Linked DNA regions of Homo sapiens. The protein of the gene in region 2 binds, or shares a complex with, the protein of the main gene of each other region. Each region holds a gene or a part of one and is shown on either strand. Other genes may lie near its edges.

What was found. Proteins that work in one complex are often made in the same cells at the same time.
Region 1: the proteins of TRIB1 (region 2) and COP1 are in contact, whole or in part, in a crystal structure (PDB 5IGQ), measured with the Homo sapiens proteins. Residues at the interface, in NP_079471.1 of Homo sapiens: Asp355, Gln356, Ile357, Val358, Pro359, Glu360, Tyr361; in NP_071902.2 of Homo sapiens: Ile423, Ser425, Val441, Lys472, Tyr491, Trp517, Asp534, Ala556, Asn557, Cys559, Ala576, Asp577, His578, Lys600, Ala601, Ser603, Thr618, Lys643, Asn644, Phe645, Phe699.

The regions. Positions count from the first base shown.
Region 1 is NC_000001.11:175,945,287-175,952,312, forward strand, and holds part of COP1 (E3 ubiquitin-protein ligase COP1), read right to left. Parts: intron 1,954-7,026; coding exon 1,909-1,953; intron 1-1,908. UniProt on the Homo sapiens protein: E3 ubiquitin-protein ligase that mediates ubiquitination and subsequent proteasomal degradation of target proteins.
Region 2 is NC_000008.11:125,426,357-125,433,359, reverse strand, and holds the start of TRIB1 (tribbles homolog 1), read right to left. Parts: upstream 3,003-7,003; 5' UTR 2,458-3,002; coding exon 2,098-2,457; intron 1,152-2,097; exon of another isoform or gene 1,036-1,151; intron 44-1,035; coding exon 1-43. UniProt on the Homo sapiens protein: Adapter protein involved in protein degradation by interacting with COP1 ubiquitin ligase. The COP1-binding motif is masked by autoinhibitory interactions with the protein kinase domain.

The DNA of each region.
Region 1 (7,026 bases), on a different chromosome or scaffold from region 2:
TGGGAAAATGCCAAAGAATTTGAATGGATTGGACATTAATCCTTTTTGACCTGCAGCTTAACAGCTGCATGAACTCTTTCAGATGAGCTATCTCCACAGTTAACTTGGAAGCCTTCAAGGTAAACTACATAAAACACATGGAAAAATAAATTGGCTAATGCATAGCACAAATACATTTTTGGAATATATGTTGGAATCTTTCCACATTCTTATGAAAGTTTTAAGTATCCTTGTTTAGGATTTTAATCTGTTTTCTTCTTTCATCAATAAACACTGTTTATAATGATCAAGGTTACAGGACCTAAAGTCTTGCTCTTTCCTGCTGCTTCATCCATTTCTAGCCAATCATCTAGCGTCCAGATACTTTGTATTTTTAGAATTAAAGTAGTATACTGTCATAAAAAAGTAAGTTGTGATATTGCTAAAACTAAGAGGAAGCAAATGGCTAAGAAAGATCACGGAACAGGAGGATAGTTATGAGACACTGTCAAAAAGAATTACATTAGATGGACACTACAACACTCACTAAGTAGCAAATATTTAAACGTGCAACCTTTCCCCTGCTGCTCAGCTAAGGCTTGACTAATATATGTGCTTCCATAATGCTTTTGTCTTTATATTAGGTAACTAGGCTACTTAACATAAGAAGTCAATGATGCTGAACAAAATCTTAGATTTGTCAGTGGGATCCTATGAGAACCTATGTAGTTTTGAGCTCTTGTAGGTATGCTGGCAATCCCAATTGGTGTAAAGGATAAACTTTTTGAAGAGTAAGGTGTAGCTTTTCAATTCATGACTTGACATGAGAGTAAGAGAGAGACTGAGAGAGTATAGAAAGCCACTTAAATCAGATATTCCAAGACCTTCTACCATCTTGCTTGAGGCTTCCAGAACATAACAAACACTGATCAGTTAAAAAACCTCGTTTTCATTTAAGCTCTCAGTGGTTCTCTAAAGAGGCTTTTCAAACAGAGAAACTGGCTGCCTAAAAAAGGAGACTACCATGTAAATTAGTGCAGTTCTTCTGCGTTAAGTTTGCTCATTTCACCTCTGTAGAATGTTTAGGCTAGGATTTGCTGCCTTGGCTGATGGATTATTCTCCACTTATGATGAGTCTAAGGAAGCTATGGCAAAATTAATGCTAAGTGGCAGGAGAAACACACACGTTATGTTAAAAAACTTTCAATATTTCTACCAAATCAGCAGAGAATATGTGGAAAAAACAGGTACTCTCAGAAACACGTACTCCACCAAAAGGGTGTTTTGTTTAGAAAGTTCACTGCTTATCTCAGGATTTATTTATCCAATGTATCATGTACAAGTGCTATATATGCATCAATCAATTTTCTTTCCTTTTTTTATGGCTAGGCTTCCTTGAATCACATCTATCAATTTTCAACTGAACACTAAAATAACTTTTTCTCCCCTTTGACAACTGAGGAAAAACCTACTTCTTAGGGGACAGAAGAAAGAGAACCATGAGGAAGAGAATAAAATATGACCAAGATATGTTTAAATCTGGTGATGTCTAAGCATCTTCTGCTATATCTTGCATCTCCTGCTATATTTTGGGCTCTATCTACTGAAAGCCCTGTGGGAGAGTTGTACTGGCATAACAGAAGCTAAACTGTGCTTAGCCCACAGTGAATGTTCACTAGTCTTTATCTGTTTTTCAAACTGACCATCTATTAATCCATCCAGCATCCATACAACCTCAATAAGCACTATCATCTTCTCCACAGATGCAAGCTACCTATTCTTTTCCCTTAAATCAAGCCATTTGTAAGGAGACACAGACCCATGATTTGGGATGATCTCTAAGGCTCAGTACAATGGTGTATTTCTATAATCCTGTTTCAGTCTAAAAATGGGCCTGAGTTTAAAATGGAGATATAGTAAATAGCTTACCTTAATTGTACCCTGACTGTTAGCAGCAATCAGCACATTGGACTCCTAGAAAAGAACAAGAGCTTTTAAAGTATAGAGAAGGATTTCCTGGAGAGCAATCCAAGAGATAATTTCCTCTTCATCCTTCTTTCTTCACTTCAATTCCTAAGACAATTGAATCTAATATGAAGATACAATTTTTTTTTTTTTTTTTTGAGACGGAGTCTTGCTCTGTTGCCCAGGCTGGAGTGCAATGGCGCGATCTTGGCTCACCACAACCTCCACTTCCTGGGTTCAAGCGATTCTCCTGCCTCAGCCTCCCGAGTAGCTGGGATTACAGGCATGCGCCACCAGCCCAGGTAATTTTTGTATTTTTAGTAGAGACGGGGATTCTCCATGTTGGTCAGGCTGGTCTCGAACTCCCAACCTCAGGTGATCTGCCCACCTCGGCCTCCCAAAGTGCTGGGATTACAGGCGTGAGCCACTGTGCCCAGTCGAAGAGACAATTTTAACATGTTTTTAACTGTATTTTAAACTTAAGATCCCATATTTTGAAGTGTAAGTTTTAATAAAAGAATAAAGTTAGAAGCAGAGTAGGACACTTTTGAATGTAAACAAAAATAAAAGGGAAAAAGATTGTCAATGGAAGAAAAGCCAAAAGAAACAAAGACTGAAATAAAATGAAAAAAAGAGTAAGTTGAGAAAAACAAAGTGAATAATTGCTTTCCCAGCACACTCCTTCTTCATTCATTTTCTCTCATAAAATACCAGTAATTGATGTAAAACCTGCCAACATCCTTGGCACAAATCTCTATGGATGGACATTTGGTATTAGGAAAACAAGAAAATGTGAATATTCATTTGGGAAAAAGGACTATCTTTCTTTTTAATTATTCTATCATTCAGCACATGCATTTTTAATAACCTTGGTAATTACTTGGATGAGAATATATGTGGTGAAGTATTTTTCTATTCTAAGCCAAGGAAAAAACATTTCTCTGGAAAGTAGGAAGAGTGGGAAAAGAAATGGACATGACTGAGTTTACTAGAGAGAATCTCAGAAAGTAGGAAGAATGGAGACATGCCTCCTGTAGGAAACTGGGCATCTAAAGGGCTCTGGAACTTGGATGTGTTGGAGTCTTTTGCTTTCCATGGTAGGCAGCTAAGAGGTGGTAAACAGACTTAAAATGTCATAGAGGTCAGGCCAGGTGGCAGAGAGAAAAACGAAGTCCAAATAACAGCTATGAGAAACAGATAAAGTGGTCTAATTTGAATGTAGGATAGGATCTACCTAAATATCCTTCAGGCTTCATGACAAAGCAATAATAAGAACAAAGAAAACTCTTGGCTTGTATGTTAGAAAAGTTACTTCAGCTAAGCTGAGTTAAACTTTAGTTTCTTTGACATATGCAAGTTGCGCTTTACAAACTCATACATTTCCATTTTTAAATTTTCCCTTTCATTTCTAATAAAGCTGCTCTTCAGAAATGTGCATCTTGTTACTAATGGCATACAAGAAAATAATAATGTCTTCCACTATTCCAGAATTTTTAATGGAATCAGAATACTCTTTGGAATTAGTCAGCAGCATCAAAGATTATAGGTGTATCAAGAAGAAATAAAGACATGTGGGCATGGGAATTGTTGATCTTTTCCTAGCTGAGGATTTTCCTTAAATTAGCAAATGTTCTTAAAAATAGTAACATGGGGGCTGGGCGCAGTGGCTCACACCTGTAATCCCAGCACTTTGGGAGGCAGAGGTGGGCAGATCATGAGGTCAGAAGATCGAGACCATCCTGGCTAATATGGTGTAATCCTGTCTCTACTAAAATACAAAAAATTAGCTTGGCGTGGTGGCGTGTGCCCGTAGTCCCAGCTAGGCAGGAGGCTGAGGCAGGGGAAGTGCTTGAACCTGGGAGGCACAGGTTGCAGTGAGCAAAGATTGCACCACTGCACTCCAGCCTGGCTGGAGAGACTCCAGCAAGGCTCCGTCTCAAAAAAAAAAAAAAAAAAAAAAAATGAACATGGGTAATACAATACTCACTATTAGAATTAACTTTGGAATATTATGGGCTATTTCTGGGACTTGAGGTATACAGAATCAACACTTCCATATTCGGGGTGGGGGGCTGGGGTGAGGGGAAAGGAAGATGAATTTGGGATTTATTTACTCTTTTAGTGACCTGAATGTAGAAAGTGGTTGGAGTAGGTTCTGGATGTCCTTTAGGAATATAATAACTTACCCTGAGTTGGTTAAGAGACAGCATTTCTATGCTGGCCTCAGAAAACAGCAGAAAGAGGCACTGTGTGGTGCAATATGGATTTCTTTCTAGCAGGAATTTTAAACAAGTTGTATGGTATCAGAACTGCCACTGGTGACCCACAAATAATTCTCCTGTAAACATCATCCAGAAAAGCAGTTGAAAATCTCACTGATCAACCTAGTTGCCATTCAAGGAGGGGACAGACTCTGGTCTGCAAGAAAGCTACTGCCAAGAGCCACCACCACTAAATGCTGCAGCCATCATGAACTGCTCCCTTTGCTATGAGAACAAATAATGACAGGACAATGAAAAATTTAAAGCCGAAAGCTCCATCTCCTTCTGCCATTTTGGGTCTAGTCACCTTTTAATATAGAGAAGGAATGCAGAGACCTGGTGAAGATGAGGATTCACTTGGGGATAAGCAGGGAGTCTACTTCTGGCAGTTACAGGGATTATAAATTACATAATTGAAACTTCTGACTTCTGATGGGAGCAAAACTAGGAAAATTGTAGTATATTATCTTACAGTATGAAAAATTAGCCCCAATATAAATAAGATAATCTAGTTGGATTACCACACAAGAGGAGTTTAAAATATGTACAATTACCACTCTAAACCCAAGAAGGACATCTGATAACTATCCAACATGAATAAACACTGTCTTACTGTAACCTCAGGATTACTATGGCATTAATATATGATGTCATATTAGATGCTATCCAAGGGTTAACTCTTAACACTATTTCCTGCAGAAACAGATAAATACTTTATGTGTTAAAAAAAAAAAAAGTCAACATACGAATTGAATGCCAGTTTGAATGGTCTTTTAGGACTGAAATTTAATGAAAGAAAAATAATGGCTTCATATCTCAGTACATCCTCTCTCCCCAAAGGTAGTATGATTACAAAAAAAGTTATTTAGAATTAAACTATCAGATAGCTAGATATTGGCTTAAGATAAATTATTTTTTTTTTGCATGCAACAGAAAAATAAGACCAGATATTTTACTTCTAGCATAGAGATGTGGAAGTGGTACGTACAAGGTTATTAATGTAAGTTTTTAATGGTTCTTGATTGTATTTTGGATGACTGGTAATTCCTAGTTGTAGCTGTGGTCTGCTAGGGCCTACTATAAATAAGTTCTAGCTCAACAGGTTATTTTTTACTTGCTAAATAAAATAAAAGTGTGAGTCAGTAATTCTTATTATTTTCTCCCTCTTTTTTGGAAACCGGCAGTTTTACTGCAGAACTCTCCTCAAGGCTAAGCTAATAAAATACCCAATATTTTTTTCTGACTATGAAGAGACTAAGAAAAGACAACAGAAAAATTAGCAAGTCTTTTATAAAAACAGAAGACATATAAACATGCACCAACTTGCTTAAGTCAGTGATACTACACTAACTTATACCAAAACATTTTTAGTAGCACACGTAGGCTAGTGAAGAAAACCTGCATCTACTAAAATAGTTTTATCTTTATTGACTTGCTTAAAAAGGGTCATTATAGACAATACATTAAAAATCTGGATGGCGCTGTGGGTCACACCTGTAATCCCAGCACTTTGGGAGGCCAAGGCAGGCGGATCACCTGAGGTCGGGAGTTTGAGACCAGCCTGACCAACATGGAGAAACCCCATCTCTACTAAAAATACAAAAAAAATTAGCCAGGCGTGGTGGCACATGCCTGTAATCCCAGCTACTTGGGAGGCTGAGACAGGAGAATCGCCTGAACCCGGGAGGTGGAGGCTATGGTGAGCCAAGATCATGCCACTGCACTACAGCCTGGCCAACAAGAGCAAAACTCCATCTCAAAAATAAATAAATAAATAAATATATAAAATATAATAAAATAAAATCCTGACAAGTTGAGAAATGAACAGTTATTCACTCAGCAACTGGTGGATTTATTCATAGAGATAGATGTAACTGATTTTAAATGTAAATTAATTTTAGTATAGGTATAAGTATATACAATGTATTTAAATATAAGATACGTGAATATATATATATATATATATATATAAAAACTTCCATTTTTGGCCATAACAGAGTAAACAGACTAAATTTGTTTTCCTACCATATACAACTGGAAAACTGAAAAAAATATGTAAGATACCACTGGACCACAGGCAGTACAGGACTGTGATCTTTGAGAGAAAAGAAACAAATGAAGTGAGTCCTATAATCACCCTGGTTTTCTACTGAGAGGCAATTTCTGGACCACAAAGCAGGTAAGGAGATGGACATAACAACAGATGAGACAAGTGAGGAATAAAACATCAAAAAATTTGGTAACACCTCCAAAATTACAACTGAAGCAGACAGGAAAAAAGCATGAGAGGAAAAAGAGATTAGCATCTCAGTGACCTATTGGGCAATATGCAACCTAATAAATGTATAATTGGAGTCCCAAAGAAGGAAGAGAAAAAAATATATGAAAACGTTAAGACTAAAATGTTTCAAATTTGTAAACTATAAACCCACAAATCTAAGAAGCTTAACAATTTCTGGCAGAAAGAAGCACAACACCACATCAAGGCACACCACAGTTACACTGCTGAAGACAAGAAACAGAGAAAATCTGTAGAAATGCCAAAGAAACAAAGACACATTACATAAAGAGAAAGATCGCCAATTTCCCATCAGCAAGAATGCAAGCCAGAAGACAATAGGACAGCATCTTTAAGATGACAAACAAGAGGCCAGGCGCAGTGGCTCACGCCTGTAATCCCAGCACTTTGGGAGGCCATGGCAGGCGGATCGCCTGAGGTCAGGAGTTTGAGAGCAGCCTGGCCAACATGGTGAAACCCCATCTCTACTAAAAATACAAAAATTAGCTGGGCGTGGTGGCAGGAGCCTGTAATCCCAGCTAC
Region 2 (7,003 bases):
TGTAAGGCCTGATTTTGTCCTGGTAGTGTTTAATGGGAAACACCTGTAGAGAGAAGGGGGGCCCGTTTAGGGGGCTAGAAAAGCAAAGGCAGCCTCCCAAACCCCTGAGGGAGCTGAACAGAAGTTCTCAACCTGTGGGCTTAGGATGTGAGTAAGTTCCATTCACCTACTCCTTTCCTCTGCCACCTTACCTTACGCAGCCCCAGCTGCCCCTGACACCTTTAAAACCAGTAACACCTAAAGCTCTAGACTTGCAAATACCCAAAGGGTTACCCGCTTTCACACAGATGATTTGAAAGAACTGTCTCCTGTACATGTTCCCATCTTCTGTCAGCTCCTGAGAGCTAAGCAAACCCCCCACCCTCTGTGGCCCTTTCCTGTTTGCAGGCCACACTAGTTGAGTGGCTGATAGAAGGAAGCCCCTGGCCTGTCCAGGAGCTGAAAAGCAGTCCCTGGACGTGCATGTGCCTCCTGCAGACCCAAAGTGCTCAACACAGAAAGGGCACAGAATGTGGTGACTCTGCAGCCTCCAAGGGGAAGCAGGGGCCAGAGAACATGCAGAGCTGTCATTAATCAGAAGGAACAGATGACTTGGAGGGGGAGGCTGGGACAATGCAGCCTTAAGCAACCTGCCTACAGTCCGACTCAAGTGTAAGCAGCCTTGAGTTACAATTCTCACAGGAAGGGTATGGAATCCTGCGAATGGGTTTTCCACTTGTTTGTTTATCCCCCCACACCCGACCCCACCCCTAGAAATGAGTAGCATCTCCTCTCTTCTAGGAAGCTGGCTGGTCTCTTTAAAGGCCTTTTGTTCAGTCCAGTTACTCATATCCTAGACTCAACTGGAAACGGTGACACACGGGCTGTCACCATCTGGATTCAGCTATTATCTGCTCAGAGGAACTGGAAGGGGTTGCACAATGGCCAGACTCACCCCACCTCTAAGAGGCCTGGCTGCTCTGGCACCAGCTAGAAAAATCCCCTGCTGCCCCCTCCTCCCACCCCATCCCATCCCATCCCACCACACACACATACATGCTTGTCCCAGAACAGCTCTTAGCCCCAGTCATGGAGAAGAAAAGGTTTTTTTTTCCTCCCTATTAAACTGGGCTTGATCATGCGTCTGAAATTTCATTCGGGTTGGGCAGTAGGTGGCAGCAGCGAGCCCCGGGACGGGGTCGGGGTGTTGGGAGTGTCAGGTGAGTTGCGGAAAACCCAGAAGCGACTTAACTGGGGGGTGATCCTATCTTTCGGGTGAAAAGGAGCGGCCCGAGGGTGCTCTGGGGTGCCTCAAGCAGGGGTGCCACGCTCGCATAAAGTAGACTGTGGGAACGTTCTGCGTCTACCCGCGCAGGAGGAGGACCCGGCGGATCCTGTTTCTAGGAGCTGTGTCTCCTCCTCCTGGATGGGATCCCTATGTTCAAAGGAAAATCGCTGGCTGGAAAATAAAGTGAATCGAAGCGAGGGTTCCTGGCCGGTGTGGGCTTTTCAACATTTCTACTCCGAGCAGATTCCTCCGCCTCGGGTGGATGACTCTGGGACTGCTCCCTTGGGAGGGCGTGTTCTAGTCTCAGCGCGGATTCAATTCGGAATCCCCAAGGCAGGAGCCGGACACAGTCTTCCAGCCCCCTTACCACCTACAACTGAGCCCGGGTGCCGTGCAAGCCCGGCAAGAGAGCTGCCAGCTGCTCCAAGCTCCTAGGAGGCACCCACTAAAGGGCGTCCTTCCAGGACATTGGCGGGGGAGGGGGGGTGGAGAGCGAGGAGAATGAGAGAAGGGGAATGGCATGGCCCTGGAATCCATTTCAATTCCACAACTTATATGGAACGCCACGCGCTACACTGGGCGCTGAGGAAAGGAACAGATAGAGAAAGCCACTGAACACTGCACTTCCTCTAGGCGCCCCCATTATATCACTCCATGGGAAACCCCTCGATCCACAAAAACGTGAACCTGGTCAAATGGCGTCTTATCTGACCCAATCTACTGATCCGCCCTGTGCCCAGCCCAAGCGTTGGCCGGACCCCAAGCACCTTTGCCTACCACCCCGTCCCGCGCCCCCGACCCCAGCCGGGTCCTGGCCCGGGAGCGCCTACCTTGCAGCGCAGCTCGCGTCCAGTGTGGATGCACAGCGCCCGGGACACATGCTCGCGCTCGGCTAGGGGCAGCAGCAGGTAGTCGGCGATGCGGCTGGGCCCCGGCGCGCTCCCGGAGCCTCCGCCGGCCCCCGGAGCGGCAGGCGGGGGCTGCGGGCTGCAGGGCGAGCCGGGGGGGCTGAGGTAGTCCGGGGGGCTGGAGCACTCGGAGAGGCGCGGGCACTTGGCCGCCACAGCCGCCGCGTCGTCGGCGTCCAGCAGGCGTTTGGCCGGGACGCCTCGGGTGGCTGGGAAGAGCAGGGCCGGGCCGCGGGGCTGCGAGGCGCCGCTCATGGCAGAGCGCACCGGACCGACCCGCATCCCGTCCTGGGCCGGGGTGGCCCCGGCTTTTTAAGTCCCGGGATCCGCGCGGGAAGACGCTGCGGGTTTGGTGCCGGCTCCGCGACTTCTTCCAGCCGGCGGGATGGAGTTTGCAGACTGGTCTTGGCTCGGCCCCCACGAGGGGCAAAGCAGGAGCCACTCCCCGGCGCTCGCGTTGCACGCGGGGACCACGCTGGCTGTGCGTCCGGGAGGCGGAGGCCGGCTCGAGTCCCCGGACCCCCGCAGGCAAGGGCTCCCGGAGCCTCGCTGGGGGCGGCCGCCACTATTGTTGCCGAGGCTGCCGATAGTCCGGGAGGCAGAGGCGGCGGCGGCAGCGGTCAGCGATCCCGGGGTCCCGAGCCGCGAGGACAGGATTCAGCAGGCTCGGCGGAGCCACGAAGCAAATGCACTTCCCAAAGCGATGAGTCTCCAGCAAAAGCCGGGGGAACTTTTTCGCGGCGCTCGGGATCCTGAGCGCTCCTGGGCTCCGGGCGTGTATGAGAGCGAGCGAGACGCGCTCAGAGAGAGTGACTGTGAGTGAGTGTGAGCGCTGCACCGATCCCGGCCAGTGCACTCCTCCTTCTCCTTTTCCTCCACCTCCTCCGCCTCCTGGTGACTCACGCTGTATACACACACACTCACAGGCCGGGCTGTGTAAACAGTTGGGAAGCCGGGTTGTGCAATGAGGTGGCTGCGACGACTCCGGCCCCGCCGCCCAGCGAGCAGTCTCCGGAGCGGAGGGAGGAGACTGGGGGAAGGGGAGAGGGAGTAGGAGGTGGGGGGAATGGGGGTGGACTTAGGGCTGGGGATGCTCCGGGCAGCGCGCGCTCGGGCGCAGGTGGTGCGTCCCGGGCCGGCCTGGACGCGCGCACACGCCCCCAGGGCTGGGAGGGGCTGGGCAGGAGGCGGCGCGCGCGCCCTCCCGCAGGCCCCCAGCTCAGCGGAGAAGCCGAAGGAGGGGGCGGAGGAAAAGTTCCCGTGACGTAAGGGCCCGGGGAAGTGGGCGGGAGGGACGGGGCTGCGGGGAGCGAAGCGACCGCTGATTGGTGCGCGCGCCTCATTCACAGTAAGCACAATGGGCTGCGGGCGCGAGGCGGGAGCGCGCACCACGGTTCTCTGCACCCGCCGCTCGCTGCAGCCCCGCGGCGACGCCTTTCGCCCCGGGGATCCCCCCACCGCCCAGCGCCTGGGGAGCTCCGGTTGGAGCCGTGGGCGCCGCCGAGGCCCGGCTGCAGCCGGAGGAAGGAGGGGGATAGGGAGGTGATGAATTCCAGAATCAGTCATTCACCCCCACGCGGTAGTTCCGGGGAAGACCTGTGCGTGGTAGTGGATGTGGCTTTTTTTTTTCCCTTTTCCTGCCCCCTCCCAGCTCTAATCCCCAGCGTCTGTTCGCTTCCACAAATAGAACCTTCTGTTGGAGGAAATAAAAGCAAACACTGGGCCTTCTGCGCTGCCTCCACCTCCACGCCCCCCCAACCCCCCCGCGCCTGCCGCCCGCCCGGATTGCACGGAAATAGCTTCTCCAGGCTCCCGGGCCGCCCCTTCGCGGTGACTCGCAGAAAGAGCTTCCTGAGCCAGGGCCGGTGGGAAACAAAGGATGTGGGGAGCGGGCGGAAGGGGCCCACGTGGCTGCCGCCGGATTCCTACTCCCTCCCCAGCCTCCACACGCGCCGCAGGGTCTAGGGCCTGAGTGCCAACCTGGGTAGGTGGGTAGGCTGGTGGAAGTCATTCTGGCCACTGCCAGAGATACCGCCTGCACCCGGGCAGCCCTGCCTGGTGGTGCGCATGCATTCATTCCGTGTGATTTGGAAGAGCATCAAAGTTGCGCGTGAAACAACTTGGAATCTGTCATTTTTCTTTCTTGAGTGAACCAGGTCAGTTTGGAGTCCCTGGGCACCCAACAATATAACTATTATTAGAGAGCCCTTACTTGTCCTTCTGCTAAATACTTAATTTTCTAAAACCAGGTCGAGCCCCAGGAATAAATCATTTTCCTTATTAATTCTCCATTCATTCAACAAATACTAATTAAGCATCTACCAAGAGCTAAACGCTGGGAATTAGAAGGTGAAAATTAAAATAATAATAATAGCTAACATGAATCGAGGCCTACAATGTGTCGGACACTGTTCTTAGCACTTTATATGTATTACTTCAGTTTTCCAACCACACTATGGGGTTATTTTTTGCCCCATTTCACAGGGAAGAAACTGAAGCCTTAGAAGGATGAAGTTAGGCCAAGCGTGGTGGCTCACGCCTGTAATCCCAGCACTTTGGGAGGCTGAGGTGGGCAGATCACCTGAGGTCAGGAGTTCAAGACCAATCTGGCCAACATGGTGAAACCCCGTCTCTACTACAAGTACAAAAATTAGCTGGGTGTGGTGGCGCGCGCCTGTAATCCCAGCTGCTGGGGAGGCTGAGGTGGGAGAATCACTTGAACCTGGGAGACAGAGGTTGCAGTGAGCCGAGATCGTGCCACTGCACTCCAGCCTTGGGGAGAAAGCAAGACTTAGTCTCAAAAAATAAAAAATAATAATAATAATAATTTAAAAAAAGAACGAAAGATGAAGTTACTTGCTGCGGTTAAGTAGCTCATAAGGGGTGGTGCGGTCAAGCTCCTAAGCATTTATGGCGACTGGAAGGAGAGATTACAATTTGTAGGGGAAAACAGGAGTTAGGGAGGACTCTAGAAGGCATTTGACCTGGGAGATGTGCAGGGACTGTGAGGGAGTTGCTCAAGGGAGAGTATGAATGGTGGGAGGCCGGGCCAGACAAGGGGTGTGCGGAAGGGCAGGGCTAGCAGGCCAGAGAAACTACAAGGGTGGTGGGAGCTGAGCCTGCAGAGGTCTCCTGAGACAGTGTTGGGAAGGGCTTGAAAGCCATGTTGCACTTGGTCCTGTGCCCAGAGGAGAGCCCACCGAAGAGTTAGTTAGTTAGTTTGTTTGTTTGTTTGTTTGTTTGTTTGTTTTGAGACAGAGTCTCCCTCCATCGCCTAAGCTAGAGTGCAGTGACCCAATCTCGGCCCACTGCAACCTCTGCCTCCCGGGTTCAAGTGATTCTCCTGCCTCAGCCTCCCAGTAGCTGGGATTACAGGCGCCCGCCACCATGCCTGGGTAATTTTTTATTTGTAGTAGAGACGAGGTTTCACCATGTTGGCCAGGCCGGTCTTGAACTCCTGACTTTAAGTGATCCACCCACCTCAGCCTCCCAAAGTGCTGGGATTACAGGCTTGAGCCACCACGCCCGGCCCCACCTACATTTTTTTTGTCTTTGAAGATTATTCTGTGCCAGAATGTAAGATCCACTGAGCTGCCAGCACTTGAATGGCAAACTCAGCATGGCCCCTGAGCATCTTCCTCCCAGGTGTGTGCCTCCTTCTCTGCCTCTTCTGAGAGACAGGCATGCCACCATCCACCCAGCTCCGCCCACCCAGGGGCCAGGATCACAGGCACTCATCGTGGGTTCCCCTTTGAATCTGCCTTTTTCCTTTCTCCCACAGCCCACCCTAGACCTGTGAGCTCTCAGTGCCGGGCCCTACCCCGCACTGTTCAGCTCCCTGGGGCTGGCCCTCACCAGCTCTACTTCCCAGGCTCACTTGCCCATTGGCTTCCAGCCCAGTTTGCCCAGTGGGAGGCCCGGGAGGGAGATTAGAAGGCAGGAGGAAGAAGAGAATGCCCAGGCTACTATTTGCTTCAGGCAGCTGGCCACACCTCCTCTGGGGCTCCAGAGGAGACAGCCACTCCGCATGGCTGCTGCGATGTGCTCCCCAGATCCCGCTGCCCAACTGGAGGATCTGTTTCCCTGGCTGCTGGGAGTGCATATCAGGAGCTGTTTTGGAAATTGCCTTGACTGAGAAGAGCCACTTTGCCGGAGGTCACACTCCCTTCCCAAGGGTCCACATCCAGTGACTGCTGATCATGGAAGAATAAAGGTCCCCTTGTCCCAACTTGGGCCACCTGTCCAAGGCATCCCAGCTTCAGAGCTCCCAGATTTAGGCCTTCCTAAAATTGCATCACAGCCCAGCTTTTTCCTCTGCCCAATCCTGTTCCTTCCTCCCCCTCTTCCCACAGAATCCTCTTGCAGGCTGGCCTGCATCTCAGAGTCAGCTTCCTGGGGAGTTCAACCTGTGGCACCCCTTCTTCATGGTCCGAGCTCACTCCAGGGACTCTGGCTTCTGGGAGCAGGTGAAACCACCTTTGTCCCTCCAGCCGTAGGGTGGCAGCAGCTTCCAGATGTTGCTAATCTCTGGGTGGCCCCCAGCACCATGTTTTGTTCTGTTTTGTTTCTGCCCTTTCTATGCCTTTGTAACTAGTTTTCTACATAAATTCTATCCACTGAACTTCCTGGCCTGAGTTCCATTTTCCTGCCCAGACCCTGTCTAATAGAAACCTTCTCCCTTTCCCACGTTCGGCCCTCTCCCCACTCCCATAATCCTAGTTCACAACCTTCCCCTGGATTCCTGCAGTAAGTTCTCAATGGAGCCACTCATTCATCCCTTCAACAAACATTGAGCCCCTACTTGGTGTCAGCACCCACTAAGTGCTGG